2 linked regions of the Homo sapiens genome follow. The gene in region 2 interacts genetically with the main gene of each other region. Each region holds a gene or a part of one and is shown on either strand. Other genes may lie near its edges.

Region 1 (7,027 bases), on a different chromosome or scaffold from region 2:
GAGAACATTCATAATAATAATTCTTTGAAAACCTCAATGATTATTTCTGCAGATAAATTTCCATACATATTACAGAATTACTGGATAAGAGGAACTACCTTTGACAAGTTTAAATCTGACAAACCAAGGTATATTTTGCTAGGATTTCATACATCTAAAGTACTGTTGTGTTAACCTAATATATTTAGGTATAATAATTATTTTGGTATAATAATTATTTAGGTATAATATTTAGATAAAATAAATATTTAGGTATAATAGTAAGTATATAATAGGTTTTATATAATAATAGGTATATAACTATTACATAATTTATATGTATAATATATAATTATTATTATACCTAAATAATATATATTAACCTAATATATTTAGGTATATTGATCATTATACTTAAATAATATATTTAAGTTAACATAACAGTATTTATTATAAACCAGAAATTCAGCAAAGCCATGTAGCAAAAGGAGAACAAAGTCCTAACAAATGTGAAAAGCAAATCTGACCATCCAGGGATTTTCTGTAATAGCACTTTGTCAGTATTAACAAATAGAACAGAGATGTTTATGATCATTCTACCTTGAATATGCCTGATTTCAGAAGGAAGGGAAGTTATACTGATACTTCTGAGGGATCTTAATCTTTCCTATTTAATAATTAGAATTTACAGACCAAAACTACATAAATATTTTCAATAAAGAAAAAAAGGCCAGGCATGGTGAATCATGCCTATAATCCCAGCACTCTGGGAGGCCCAGGTAAATGGATCACTTGAGGCCGGGAGTTTGAGACCAGCCTGGCCAACACGGCGAAACCCTGTCTCTACTGAAAAATAGAAAAAATTAGCCCGGTATGGTGGCAGATGCTTGTAATCCCAGCTACTCAGGAGGCTGAGGCATGAGAATTGCTTGAACCTGGGAGACAGAGGTTGCGGTGAACCGTGATCGTGCCACTACATTCCAGCCTTGGTGACAGAGCAAGGCTCTGTCTCAAAAAAAAAAGAAAGAAAATATATTTAGTTTAAAGGTTGCTTAACAAGGTAAAAAACTACTTAAAATTATACAGATTATAATTTTCACTTTGCAGGGCAGGAAGGTACATTGCAGGAAGGACTACCTCACAGCATTGCTTTGAGAATAGAAATAGTCAGGAATGGTTGGCTCATGCCTGTAATCCCAACACTTTGACAAGCTGAGACTATCACTTGAGACCACGAGTTCAAGACCAACCTGGGCAATGTGGCAAGACCCCATCTCTAGAAAAACTTAAAAAAAAATTAGCCAGACATAGTGGCATGCATCCGTGGTCCCAGCTACTCAGGAGGGCGAGGTGGGAGGACTGCTTGAGACCAGAAGGCTGAGGCTGCAGTGAGTCATGTTTGTACCATTGCATTCAAGCCTGAGCAACAGCGTGAGGCGTATCTCAAAAAAAAAAAAAAAAGAGAGAGAGAGAATAGAAATCTATCTAATTAGAAAGCATAGAGCACAATGAGTCATACTTTACTCCTCAAAGTTTAAGCTGCACTGTACACTAAATTGGCCACCAGATGGCATGACAATTCCAAAGTCTGAAGAAAGACTAAAAATTATCAGTTTTTCTAATAATCTAATAAACCAATCACTGTGCTTAATTTAAAAGCAAAATATTAGAAATATTCATATTTTTATATAACTTCATTTTACCAATTTAATGAGGTAGTCATGGAGGAAACAGACTTCTACATGCAATTACTGATTATAATACAATCATTTTGGGACATGGGCTGTAATTTTAAAAACATCAAGTCATCTTGCAACCATAAAATTTTAAAGTGAGAAAGGGTTTTAGAGTCTAGCCACCTCATTTAATAAATGAGGAAACTACTGACAGATGTAAAGAAACTTGGAAATGGGGACACTGTTAATAGTAACAATAATTAAACTAAAGCTAAGTTTTGACTTCTATTCCATGGTTCTTTCCACCACTCAAAGGATTATCATTATATTTAAAAATTAAAATCAGTCACTTCTAACCCTACAAAAGATTAGACTTCAGACACAGACCTTATTTCTCCCCTTCCAATGTATGCAGATAACTTTACTGGGAAAACTTGACTTGAAAAGGCTTAAGATTTTTAGATTATTAATATAAGTAAATCAACCAACTAAAACAAGCAAATACAATCAGCAAAACAAATATAGCTACAAATCCAGCTGACTAAGCTTTGGCCATATATATATATATATATATATATATATATATATATATATTTTTTTTTTTTTTTTTTTTTTTTTTTTGAGACGGAGTTTCGTTCTCGTTGCCCAGGCTGGAGTGCAGTGGCAGGATCTCGGCTCACTGCAACCTCTGCCTGCCGGGTTCAAGCGATTCTCCTGCCTCAGCCTCCCAAGTAGCTGGGATTACAGGCACCCACCACCACGCCCGGCTAATTTTGTATTTTTAGTAGAGACAAGGTTTCTCCATGTTGGTCAGGCTCATCTCGAACTCCCGACCTCAGGTGATCCGTCCGCCTCAGCCACCCAAAGAGCTGGGATTACAGGTGTGAGCCACAGCGCCTGGCGGTTTGGCCATATTTTTGTGAGCAGTTAGCCACTTGGTATCTGACTAAAAGAAGGTAGCAACATGTTCCCAATATGACAATTTTTTTAATTGCTTTAAAATTCTTCAAACTTTGCCTCTGTTAAATTTATGTATTTATATGCCTTTATCATCCAGATTTTTTTTAAAAGCCCTCCCTTTAAAAGCCATCATTTTATGGTATGAAAGTTATAATCTGACCTAGAATTTCCCCTGAACCACAGCATGTTAATACATGAATAAAATAAGATTCCCTACCTAAAATAACCTTTACCATCATCTTCTTTTATTTCTAAAGACACAGAGAAGGTAAAGATGTCACTGTCAGGAGTCTGGGGTGCAGCAGTGGCTGAAAGTGGGGTCTGCTTGGCAGAACGGCGGAAGGCAGTGGCAAAACTGTAAAGTATCCGGCTTACCTACAACCAGACATGTTAGGAAATGGGCTGTTATCAAAAGATATAAAATACCTTTATTAAGGCTGGAAGATTACCTACTTTGGAGGGCAATAATTATCTTTATCCCACTTATTTCTTTTGGTAAATTACCTAATTTGTTAGGCCTATAAAGCAAGCAACACTAAAAATGTCCAGACAAGGGGTTTTAAAAAAGAAATGGTTGTAAGCACTATAAATCCAATTTAAAAATCACTTCCTAAATTGTTAGAAACTATCTGAAGATATTACAATGAAAACAGTCCTAACAAGTTTTGATTTAAAAGAATGGTTTGCAAATCTGTCAATGTTAGAACCAGAATGCCTACTTAACCCAATCAAAAGTAGCCAACAGATCTCCTCTGACATTCTTAGTAGTAGTAACAAAGTTCTAGTTAATCAAATTTTTAGTTAATTTATATTTTGGCCCATGAGGCTAGAATCACTAAAACAATAGCAGAGAATTTCATCTGGCTTATGAGTGATCATAATAAATACCATAATCATTTCAACCTAGTGAGGGCACTGGTGAAGTTTCATTTGCAGAGAGTTTTCTCTTGAGGACTTACAGCTTCTTGTATTTCACACCGGAAGACGTGTATTCTGAAGAGCTCTGCATTGTAATGACTTTCAGTGAAAGCAAAACAGTCACTCTCAGGAGTTCCATCATGCCCTCTGACACAGAAGAGGATTTTGTAGATAGGGTAGTTTGCTATTTCAGTGTTTGTCTGAGGATCTAAGAGTCTGTTCAGAGAAAAAGATACAGAGAGATTACAGGAATTATGAACAATCTGCACTACGTTTAGATTAAGATGTGAGACTCATTCTTTCTAGTAAGAAGATCATATATTTGGTATGCTGATATTAACCTTAAATTTTAATAAGTAACTCATATGTGAATTCCGGAAGCTATTGATTACGTAATTCCATAGTACTAAAAACCATATAGTATCATGTTTTAGGGAGGCAAACAGAAAGGTATAAACAATATCAATAAGCACATTTCTTATACAGTCTGCTACAAAATAAAGACGATTAATACGTAAATTAGACTACCAAAATACATCATTGAAGCTGTGCTTTTTTTTTTTTTTTTTTGAGACAAGTTTCGCTCTTGTTGCCCAGGCTGGAGTGCAATGGCGCAATCTCAGCTCACCGCAACCTCCGCCTCCTGGGTTCAAGTGATTCTCCTGCCTCAGCCTCCCAAGTAGCTGGGATTACAGGGATGTGCCACCATGCCCGGCTAATTTTTTGTATTTTTAGTAGAGACAGGGCAGGTTAGCCAGAATGGTCTCAATCTTCCGACCTCAGGTGATCCGCCCACCTAGGCCTCCCAAAGTGCTGGGATTACAGGCATAAGCCACCACACCTGGGCAAAGCTGTGCTTCTAATTATCTCCTTTAAAAATGACCTAATCTGTTATGAAAAAATAAAAAACAAAAAACTGATGCTTTTTCTCAGACTGAAACAAGTTTTTTTTTGATTCATGGAAAATAAGGACAGAAATTATACAAAATGTTAACTCCTCAAAAAAAAAAAAATCATGAATAAAAGCAAAAGGATGCCATTCAGTAAAAAATCAAAGGGATAGCATTCATTCAAAAATCTACTTATTCAACAAATATTTATGTGATACCTACAACATTCCAGACTCTGATCAGGGCAGTAAGGCACAACTATGGAAGGTCTAAAAAGAAACTATGCAATTTCAACACTATGTGGGTAGAGCCATTAATGGGAAAGCCTAGAAGGCCTTGCTCATCACGGAAATACCTAGGAAGAGGATCTAACACAGGTTTGAAAGCACTTTTATGAAAACTCTAAAAATGTGGGGTAAAACCGACTAGCTTTCTAACTTCTTTTATAGAATTAAAAATATATTAAAGTCTAACTTCAGTTAGAGGAATGAGTATTGACTAAGAAACATATAGAAATGAGTGCTAAACACATTTTATTAATAGTTTATCATTAATAAATAGAATTTGTGAGTCTTTGCAAAATAGTTATTTAAATACTTAAGGGGAAAAATTACATATACAGATTATTTTACTACAATCAACACACAGCTATTACTCTGTCACCATGAAAGTCCAAAATACTTCTGAGGATACTGAGAAATGGATATTCTATATACTGCTGATAAAAGTATAAACTAGATCAATATTTCTAGATGGCTAGTTGGCAATGTTATTAGAAGCAATAAAAATAGACAAACTCAATAAGTTTACTTCTAGGAATTTATCCTAAGGAAATCAACAGAAGTCTAAAAAGATTGAGCTCAAAGATACCTATTTATAAAACACTGATATTCCCATATAATTAAAACTAGCTATCATCATTCATGCTTTTTTCTCTGAAAGATAAAAGCCTTAAAATGTCTAATATAAGAGATGGGTTATTTATTTATAACCCATTCATATGCCATCATAAATTAAAATTTTTAATAATATTTACTGGCATGAAAAGAGGTTTACGATATAAAACTAAGTACAAGATGGTATGTACAGGTCCATTGCTGTTAAAAAAAAAAGTTGATTCTAACAGTTGTAAATTATGTATGTATATATATGCAGGTATATTTACATATACCTAGACATATACATATACCAATATGCAAAGAAGATCTTAATAAGCCAAGATGTTAACTGTATTTATTAGTGGTAGAGTAGAATTAAGGCTATTTTTATGTGGCAATTTTTTTAAATAAGCATGTATCTTTGGTAATAGGGAAAAAAAATTTATTTTACCTGCATTCATCTGACTTATTGAGCAACAGTATATTTAGCTGGTTGATACAGACATCTGATTAGCTATCTGCAATTGTTATTTGTTCTATTAGTATAAACAGCTAGAGGCTTCTCTGTGCCTCAGTTTTCTCATCTTTTTTTTTCATTTTGCTTTGTTGAGACAGGGTCTCACTTTGTCACTCAGTCTGGAGTGAAGTGGCATGATCACAGCTCACTGAAGCCTTGAACTCCCAGGCTCAGGTGATCCTCCCATTTCAGCCTCCTGAGTAGCTGGGACTATAGGTGTGTATGACCATGCGTGGCTAATTTTTGTATGTTTTGTACAGACAGGGTTTCACCATGTTGCCCAGGCTGCCCAGGCTGGTCTCGAACCCCTGAACTTAAGTGATCAACCCGTCTCAGCCTCCCAAAATGCTGGGATTACAGGCATGAACCACTGCACCTAGCCAGTTTTCTCATCATAAAAATTAAGGGGTGTGCTGGTATAGTTAATATTTAATAATAAATTTTTGTAACTTTCAAACTCAACATGAAACTCCATTTTGAAATAATGTGTCAAGCTTGTATTTTCATCAAAGGAACATGGAAAATATAATCTTTTAGGCTGACTCATGTCAATATATTTCATTTATCCCCAAAACATTAAATGCCTAATGTACTACACATGATCGGGAAGAGTACGAAAAACTATTACAAATAAGTAACCATTTTTCACAAAGGTCACAGTCCTTGGGAGACATGAGTGCCAGGTAAATGAAACGTTACACAAGTAAAATAACTATTAATATGTATTTTATTCACTATTGCTTCTTTCTGAAGCAACAGGTCAGAGATCTGATGTAAATATCGAAAGATTTCAACAAACCAGTCTCACCTCACAATTCCTTCAGACACATTCGGCACTGAAAGGGTAACATCTAGTGAAATCTGACACTGGCTTCTTAAGATGGACATCATCCTTAAGGCTTCCACTTCACTCCTGGGAGCATTTACCGAGGCACAGCCTAAGTAAGTCAGTTTACTGAAAACTACGCTGTCCTCATCGGCCACTGGTGTGAAAGGACTTGAAGCTTCAGAATCTGAAAGAAACAATGAATAAGGAAGTGATTACTTTCACTTTGATATTTTGTTGATACGATTAGCAAGTAAAAATCTGCAAGTAACATTTAAGGTCTAAAATTAAGTATTAATGAGACAATATGCCATACCCTAAAAGAAATGCCCATGAAAACCAGAAATCCCACACTAGAACTCTGTCAGAAACACCAAGATTTT
Region 2 (7,027 bases):
ATGTGCCACACCCAGCTAATCTTTCATATTTTTTGTAGAGAAAGGGTTTTCACTGTGTTGGCCAGGCTGGTCTCAAACTCCTGGGCTCAAGTGATCCTCCCTCCTTGGCCTCCCACAGTCCTGGAATTACAGGCATGAGCCACCGCACCGCCCTCTTTATCCTTAAGTAACATTGATATGGAGATAAAAAACATGGGTTCTTGGCCAGGCGTGGTGGCTCACACCTGTAATCCCAGCACTTTGAGAGGTTGAGGCAGGCGAATCACTTGAGGTCAGGAGGTTGAGACCAGCTTGGCCAACATGGCAAAATCTCGTCTCTGCTAAAAATGCAAAAATTAGCCAGGTGTGGTGGTACCTGCGACTGTAGTCCCAGCTACTCCGGAGGATGAGGTGGGAGGATCGCTTGAACCAGGGAAGCAGAGGTTACAGTGAGCTGAGATTGCACCACTGCATGTCAGCCTGGGTGACAGAGCAAGACCCTGTCTGAAAAAAAAAAAAAAAGCATGGGTTCTGGAGTTGGAGGTGATCAGTGCTGGGTGTATTAATTTCCCATGGCTGCAATAACAAATTATGACAGATTTTTGGTTTAAGACAACAGGAATGGATTCTCTCTCAGTTCATGGTCAGAAGTCTGAAATCATGGTACTGGCAGGGCCACAATCCCTGGAGAGGTTCTACAGGAAAATCCTTGCATCTTCCAGATTGCAGTGGATCCAGCTGTTGCTTGATTTGCAGCAGCGAAACCCAAGTCCCTGCGTCTGTCTTCACTCCTGTGTCTTGTGTCCTCTTTTTTCCTTTTTTTTTTAAAGTGAGATGGAGTCTCGCCGTGTTATAGGCTGGTCTCGAACTCCTAGGCTCAAGTGATCCTCCCACCTCAGCTGTTCTTTTCTTTTCTTTTTTTTTTTGAGACGGAGTCTGGCTCTGTCACCCAGGCTGAAGTGCAATTGCGCGATCTCCGCTTACTGCAAGCTCTGCCTCCTGGGTTCAGGCCATTCTCCTGCCTCAGCCTCCCGGGTAGCTGGGACTACAGGCGCCCGCCACCACGCCCGGCTAATTCTTTGTATTTTTAGTAGAGACGGGGTTTCACCGTGTTAGCCAGGATGGTCTCCATCTCCTGACCTCGTGATCTGCCCACCTTGGCCTCCCAAAGTGCTGGGATTACAGGCTTGAGCCACCGTGCCCGGCCCCAGCTGTTCTTTTCTTATAAGGACACTGGGCATTGGATTTAGGGCCCACTTTATATCTAGGATGATCTCATCTCAAGATCCTTATCTGCAAAGACCCTATTTCCTAATAAGGTCACCTTCACAGATTCCAGGGGTTACAACTTGGATGTCTGTCTTTTTTTTTTTTTTGAGATGGAATTTTGCCCAGGCTGGAGTGCAATGGCGTGATCTCGGCTCACTGCAACCTCTGCCTCCCGGGTTCGAGCGATTCGCCTGCTTTGGCCTCCCAAAGTCCTGGGATTACAGGGATTAGAGGCATGTGCCACCATGCCCGGTTAATTTTTTTTGTATTTTTAGTAGAGATGGGGTTTCTCCGTGTTGGTCAGGCTGGTCTCGAACTCCTGACCTCAGGTGATCCGCCCACCTTGGCCTCCTAAAGTGCTGGGATTACAGGTGTGAGCCACCGCCACCAGCCTCACATATGGCTAATTTTTAAGTTTCTTCTAGCGATGCGGTCTCACTATTTTGCCCAGGCTGGTCTTGAACTCCTGGGCTCAAGCAGTCCTCCTGCCTTGGCCTCCCAAAGTGCTAGGATTACAGACGTGAGCCACTGCGCCCGGCCAATAAATATTTATGTCCATGTTACTGACAGCAGTGTTCGTTGGTGTGGCATGGGAATGAGCTAGCTTTTCTAGGAGGAGCCCCCTATGCTCCAGGGCTGCCCCGCTGTCTTGGCTCACCGGCCATGGGAGGGAGTCCTGGGCCATGATCTGTACCTAACATAGGAGGCCCAGGAGAGGCACGTGGGGAGGACTTCCAGCCCTGTTCCTTGACGTCTGCACCCTCCAGGGGAAGGATGACAGCTGCAGAAGGGCCTGTCTCTGTCACTCTGTAGTGAACAGTTACTTCTTGCCATCTGAAGTCACCCTGGCCTACGTCCATGAGATTGGCCAAATGGCAACTACCAACACCAGGCCATTTTCCCTGTGCAGAGGGGGAGGCCCTTTGGCGTGGGCTTCCTGGGCTTGAGGAAGCTTTGGCATGGCCTCTGGAGTTCCTGGGCATAGGCTGCCCTCCCTTGGAAAGGAGGCAGTTTCTCAGGGAGGGGTGCCGGGAAAGAGAACAGAACAAACTCTCACTTCCCCAGCCCTGTGGCGCTCTTTCTGGAAATGACTGTGTCACTTTTCTTTCTTGGTCAGCACGAGTCAGTGTGGCCAGTGCTTTAGACTCTCCCATCCCCTTGGCTCAGAAGCTTACACAGCAGCATGGGCTCCGTCAGGGGCTAAACTTCAGTTTGTGAGGGGCATGCCATGGGGTGGAAAGTTCAGAGAAAAACCCTTTGTCCAAAGAAGGTGAAGAATGGCCTGCTGTCACCGAACCAGGGGCCCTTGTGACTTCCTTTGGTTACACTCCTGGGATCCCCCTGACAGCTGGGGCAGGGGTATAGAAGAGCTTGTTATGTGCCCCATCTTTAGGACATCTCGGTGTCAAGCTGGAGTGACAACAGGGAAAGTTAGTAACCCCAGAAAGGCATTTGTGTTTCAGCGGTGCCTGCGTGTGGCTAATGGATACCGTCATTTATTGAGCATTTATCCCGTACCAGACTGTGCATAAACTTGTGTTGACTCAAAATGCTTGACCTTGGGGGCAGCTAGGGAAAGGGCAGTGATATAAATTAGGCCTATGGGCCACATTGAGCCTGTGGCCTATTTTTATCTGTGTTTGTATTTTATTAGTGAGACAGAGTCTCACTGTGTTGCCCAGGCTGGAGTGCAATGGCATGGTCTTGGCTCACTGTAACCTCCACCTCCCAGGTTCAAGTGATTCTCATGCCTCACCCTCCTGAGTAGCTGGGATTACAGGCCTGTGCCACCACCCTGGCTAATTTTTGTATTTTTAGTAGAGACAGGGTTTCACCATCTTGGCCAGGCTGGCCTCGAACTCCTGACCTCAAATAATCTGCCTGCCTCAGCCTCCCAAAATGCTGGGATTACAGGTGCGAGCCACCGCACCCAGCCTGTGTTTTATTATTTATTTATTTTGAGATGGAATCTCGCTCTGTTGCCCAGGCTGGAATGCAGTGGCGCAATCTCGGCTCACTGCAACCTCTGCCTCCCAGGTTCAAGCGATTCTCCTGTCTCAGCCTCCCGAGTAGCTGGGATTACAGGCACATGCCGCCATGCCCAGCTAATTTTTTGTATTTTAGTAGCTCACTGCAGCCTCTAACTCCTGGGCTCAAGTGATCCTCTGGCCTCATCCTCCCAAGTAGCTGGGACTACAAGCACATGTCACCACCCTTGGCTAATTTAAGCAATTTTTTTAGAGACAGAGTCTTGCTGTGTTTCCCAGGCTGGCCCCAAACCCCTGGCCTCAAACCATCCTCCTCCTGCCTGAGCCTCAGAAGTAGCTGGGATTATAGTCACGAACCGCTGGGCCCGGTGTGGCCTATTTTTGTACAGACAAAGCTAAGAAAGGCTTTTACAGTTTTTGAGAGATTGATTAGGGAAAAAAACTAAAACCCAATCCACAAACAACAATAATCAGTTGAGACCACAGTGTCCTGCAAAACCTGAAATATTTACTCACTGGCCCGAGGCAGGGGAAGCTTGTAGACCCCTGGGATAAATGAATGAGGCAGGCAGGAGTTGGGGTCTGTGGGGAGTTTGGCCCCAGCCAAAAGAGAAACCAAAAAATCCTCAGGCCGAATAGAGCATACTTCTGAATTGTGTGAGCCCCTTGTGCCAATTGTGGCGCTTACTGTATGTTACCACTTACTCTGAAAAGAGTTCTGTGAGGTCAGAGATACCAACCCCAATTTACTGGTGGAAAAACAGAAATGAAAGAACTTGACTGGCCAAAGTGATGTGGTTGGCAGGCAGCAGAGATGGCTTTGGCATTCTGGGTGACTGGATGCCCACCTTAAATGCATATATAAGTGGTTCAGTGACATTTATCTGTTCATCACAAAGACCCAAAGTAGCAGAGGCTTAATTAAACACGATGGCATTTTATTTTTTGTGCTCTAATGCTAAAGTGTGAAGATTGTCAGGTGCCAAAGTCTCCTGGGCTCTTGGAAGTTCCCAGATCCAGGTCCTCCCCCCGGCTTTTTTTTTTTTTTTGAGATGGTGTCTCGCTCTGTTGCCCAGGGGCTGCAGTGCAGTGGTGTGATCTCAGCTCACTGCATCCTCTGCCTCCCGGGTTCAAGCGATTCTCCTGCCTCAGCCTCCCAAGTATCTGGGACTACAGGCGTGTGCCACCACGGCTGGCTAATTTTTGTATTTTTAGTAGAGACGGGGTATCGCCACGTTGGCCAGGCTGTTCTCAAACTCCTGACCTCAGGTGATCCACCCGCCTCGGCCTCCCAAAGTGCTGGGATTACAGGCCACTGCCCCAGGCTGATCCTCCACCATTCTTAAGGTGAGGTCTTGTCCTCAGGTTTCAGCATGACTGCTGGAGTCCCGCCATTACACCCTGGCTTCCAGACAGCAGGACAGAGGAAGGGACAAAGGAGAAAGGGTGCAAAGGTCACATCCAGGTGTTTGTTAAGAAAGGTTCCCGGTAGCTGATGCAAGGTGCTTCAGCTTTCATTTTGTTGGCTAGAATGTAGTCACATGATCACTGCCAGCTGCAAGGGATGCTGGGAAATGTAGTTTTCAATCTGAGCGGCCATGTGCTCAGCTGAATTTAGGGTTCCAGTTTCCATGGACAAAGAGAGAACATACAGGGAGTCACCTTGGCCACAGTGGGTAGGATCTGGACCTGGCCAGAATGTTGGGAAGGACGTTTCTGGGTTATGGAGAGGTGCTCCAGTGGGCCAGGGCTGGAGACAGCCACCTGGCTTGGAGCACAGGGTCCCCTGTGAGGAGTGGAGGGGCTAAAAGTGGAAACAGGGCTGGGTTGGAATCGAGGATTTTTTTGGTTTTTTTGGAGATGAATTCTCGCCCTGTCACCCAGGCTGGAGCACAGTGGCTCAATGTCATCTCACTGCAACCTCTAGCCTCCCAGGTTCAAGTCATTCTCCTGCATCAGACTCCCAAGTAGCTAGGATTATAAGTGCGTGCAACCACACCCAGATAATTTTTGTATTTTTAGTAGATACGGGGGTCTCACCCTTTTGGCCAGGCTGGTCTTGAACTCCTGACCTCAAGTGATCCATCTGCCTTGGCCTCCCAAAGTCCTAGGATTACCGGCATGAGTCACCGCACCCAGCCTCAGGTGAAATCTTAATGGAAGGTGTCCAGTGCTGTGAGCAGCTCCTGGTCACCAAGCACTGGCCCTCTGTGTAGGGGGTCTGGATGAGATGGGTGGGCAAGGCCTTTCAACAGAAGCTGGAGTGTGGTGTGAACTTGCTAATGACTTTGAGATGCCAAGCCTCACACACCTCAGACCAGGTTGGATTTAGCAGGTGGAGAGGCTCAGGAAGACCTCTGTGGCAGGTGTGTCTCCTTTCTGCGGAAACCTGCTGCTTCTAAGGTCTGCTGGAGAACCTGGGAGGTGGTGAGTTTGCAAAGACATCCAGGGAAGCAGCCACTTAAGCGAGGGCAGGATGGAGGGGCCCACCTGGGCCACACCTGGCTGCTTGAGGTGGCGAGTTGAGGCTGGGAGGGGTTTCCATCAGTTCCATCAGCTCAGAGCTAGGATTTTTTTTTCTTCTTTTTTTGAGACAGGGTCTTGCTGTGTCACCCAGGCTGGAGTGCAGTGACACGATCATAGCTCATTGCAGCCTTGAACACCCAGGCTCAAGGGATTCTCCCTCCCTCAGCCTCTCTACAGGCTGGGACCACAGGCGCACATCACCATGCCTGGCTAATTTTTTTTTTTTTTTTTTTTTGTAGAGACAGGGTCTCACTATGTTGCTCAGGCGGATGTGGAACTCCTGGGCTCAAGCGATTCTCCTACCTTGGCCCCCAAAGTGCTGGGATTACAGGTGTGAGTCATGGCAGCCACGGCTCCAGAGCTCGGGTTCTTAATCTGGTCTGTGGATGGCCCCTGGGGGCGGTCCCATGAGCCCCTCACAATTGGACACAGTTTTGCAAAGGGGTAAAAGGACAAGAATCGGTAGCTGTGACTGTGGATGAGCCTCTGAGCTTCACTTTCCCTCCCTGAAAGGGGGTGACAGTGGCACCTCCCTGGAGGTTTTCGTGGAGGGGAGGAAACACATGTAAAATACTTCACCCCAGTTGGGCACAGAGGCTCATGCCTGTAATCCCAGGTTTTGGGAGGCCGAGGCAGCAGGGCGGTTTGAGTCCAGGAATTTACAACCAGCCCGGGAAACACAGTGAAACTGTATCTCTTAAAAAATAATTTAAAAAAATTAGCCGGCATGGTGGCACATGCCTCTAGTCCCAGCTATTCCAGAGGCTGAGGCGGGAGGATTGCTTGAGCCCAGAAGCTTGAGGCTACATTGAGCCATAATCGTACCACTGCACTCCATCCCGGGAAACAGGGCAAGACCTTGTCTCTAAAAAAAAATGCTTCTTGCTTGATGACTTGTGATATATGAAAAGGAAGAAAGAAAAGAAAAGCTTTGCCCTGTGTGCCTGGCCCGAAGTAAGTGCTCCATAAATTGGCCGTGGTGTAGCTGTGGATTCTCTGCACATTTTTCTGTGCAGAACCTCCCCTGATTTCGGTCAGCTTCTCAGAAGGATCTGTGACTGAAAAAGGGTACCAGTTCCTGGAGGACAGCACCTGATTGGGGAGTGGAGTCTGCCCTGGCTGGTAAGGGATTGGGGGCTCTCTGCGCAGGGCCAGGACATCTCTCCAGGGACAGGCGAGAAGCTTTGAAAGGGCAGGAAGGAGAGGGCAGCAAGGTCAGATGCCGTGAGAGGTCAGAGTGAGAGCCAAGGGGCGGTCACTGGATT

Evidence for each region. Genes that interact genetically often act in the same process or in processes that back each other up.
Region 1: of CARM1 (region 2) and RABGAP1, changing one suppresses a phenotype caused by changing the other (phenotypic suppression), as found in Homo sapiens cells (one study listed by BioGRID).

What each region holds. Positions count from the first base shown.
Region 1 is NC_000009.12:122,986,019-122,993,045, reverse strand, and holds part of RABGAP1 (rab GTPase-activating protein 1), read right to left. Parts: intron 6,832-7,027; coding exon 6,627-6,831; intron 3,750-6,626; coding exon 3,575-3,749; intron 2,991-3,574; coding exon 2,833-2,990; intron 1-2,832. UniProt on the Homo sapiens protein: May act as a GTPase-activating protein of RAB6A. May play a role in microtubule nucleation by centrosome. May participate in a RAB6A-mediated pathway involved in the metaphase-anaphase transition.
Region 2 is NC_000019.10:10,874,538-10,881,564, forward strand, and holds part of CARM1 (histone-arginine methyltransferase CARM1), read left to right. Parts: intron 1-7,027. UniProt on the Homo sapiens protein: Methylates (mono- and asymmetric dimethylation) the guanidino nitrogens of arginyl residues in several proteins involved in DNA packaging, transcription regulation, pre-mRNA splicing, and mRNA stability.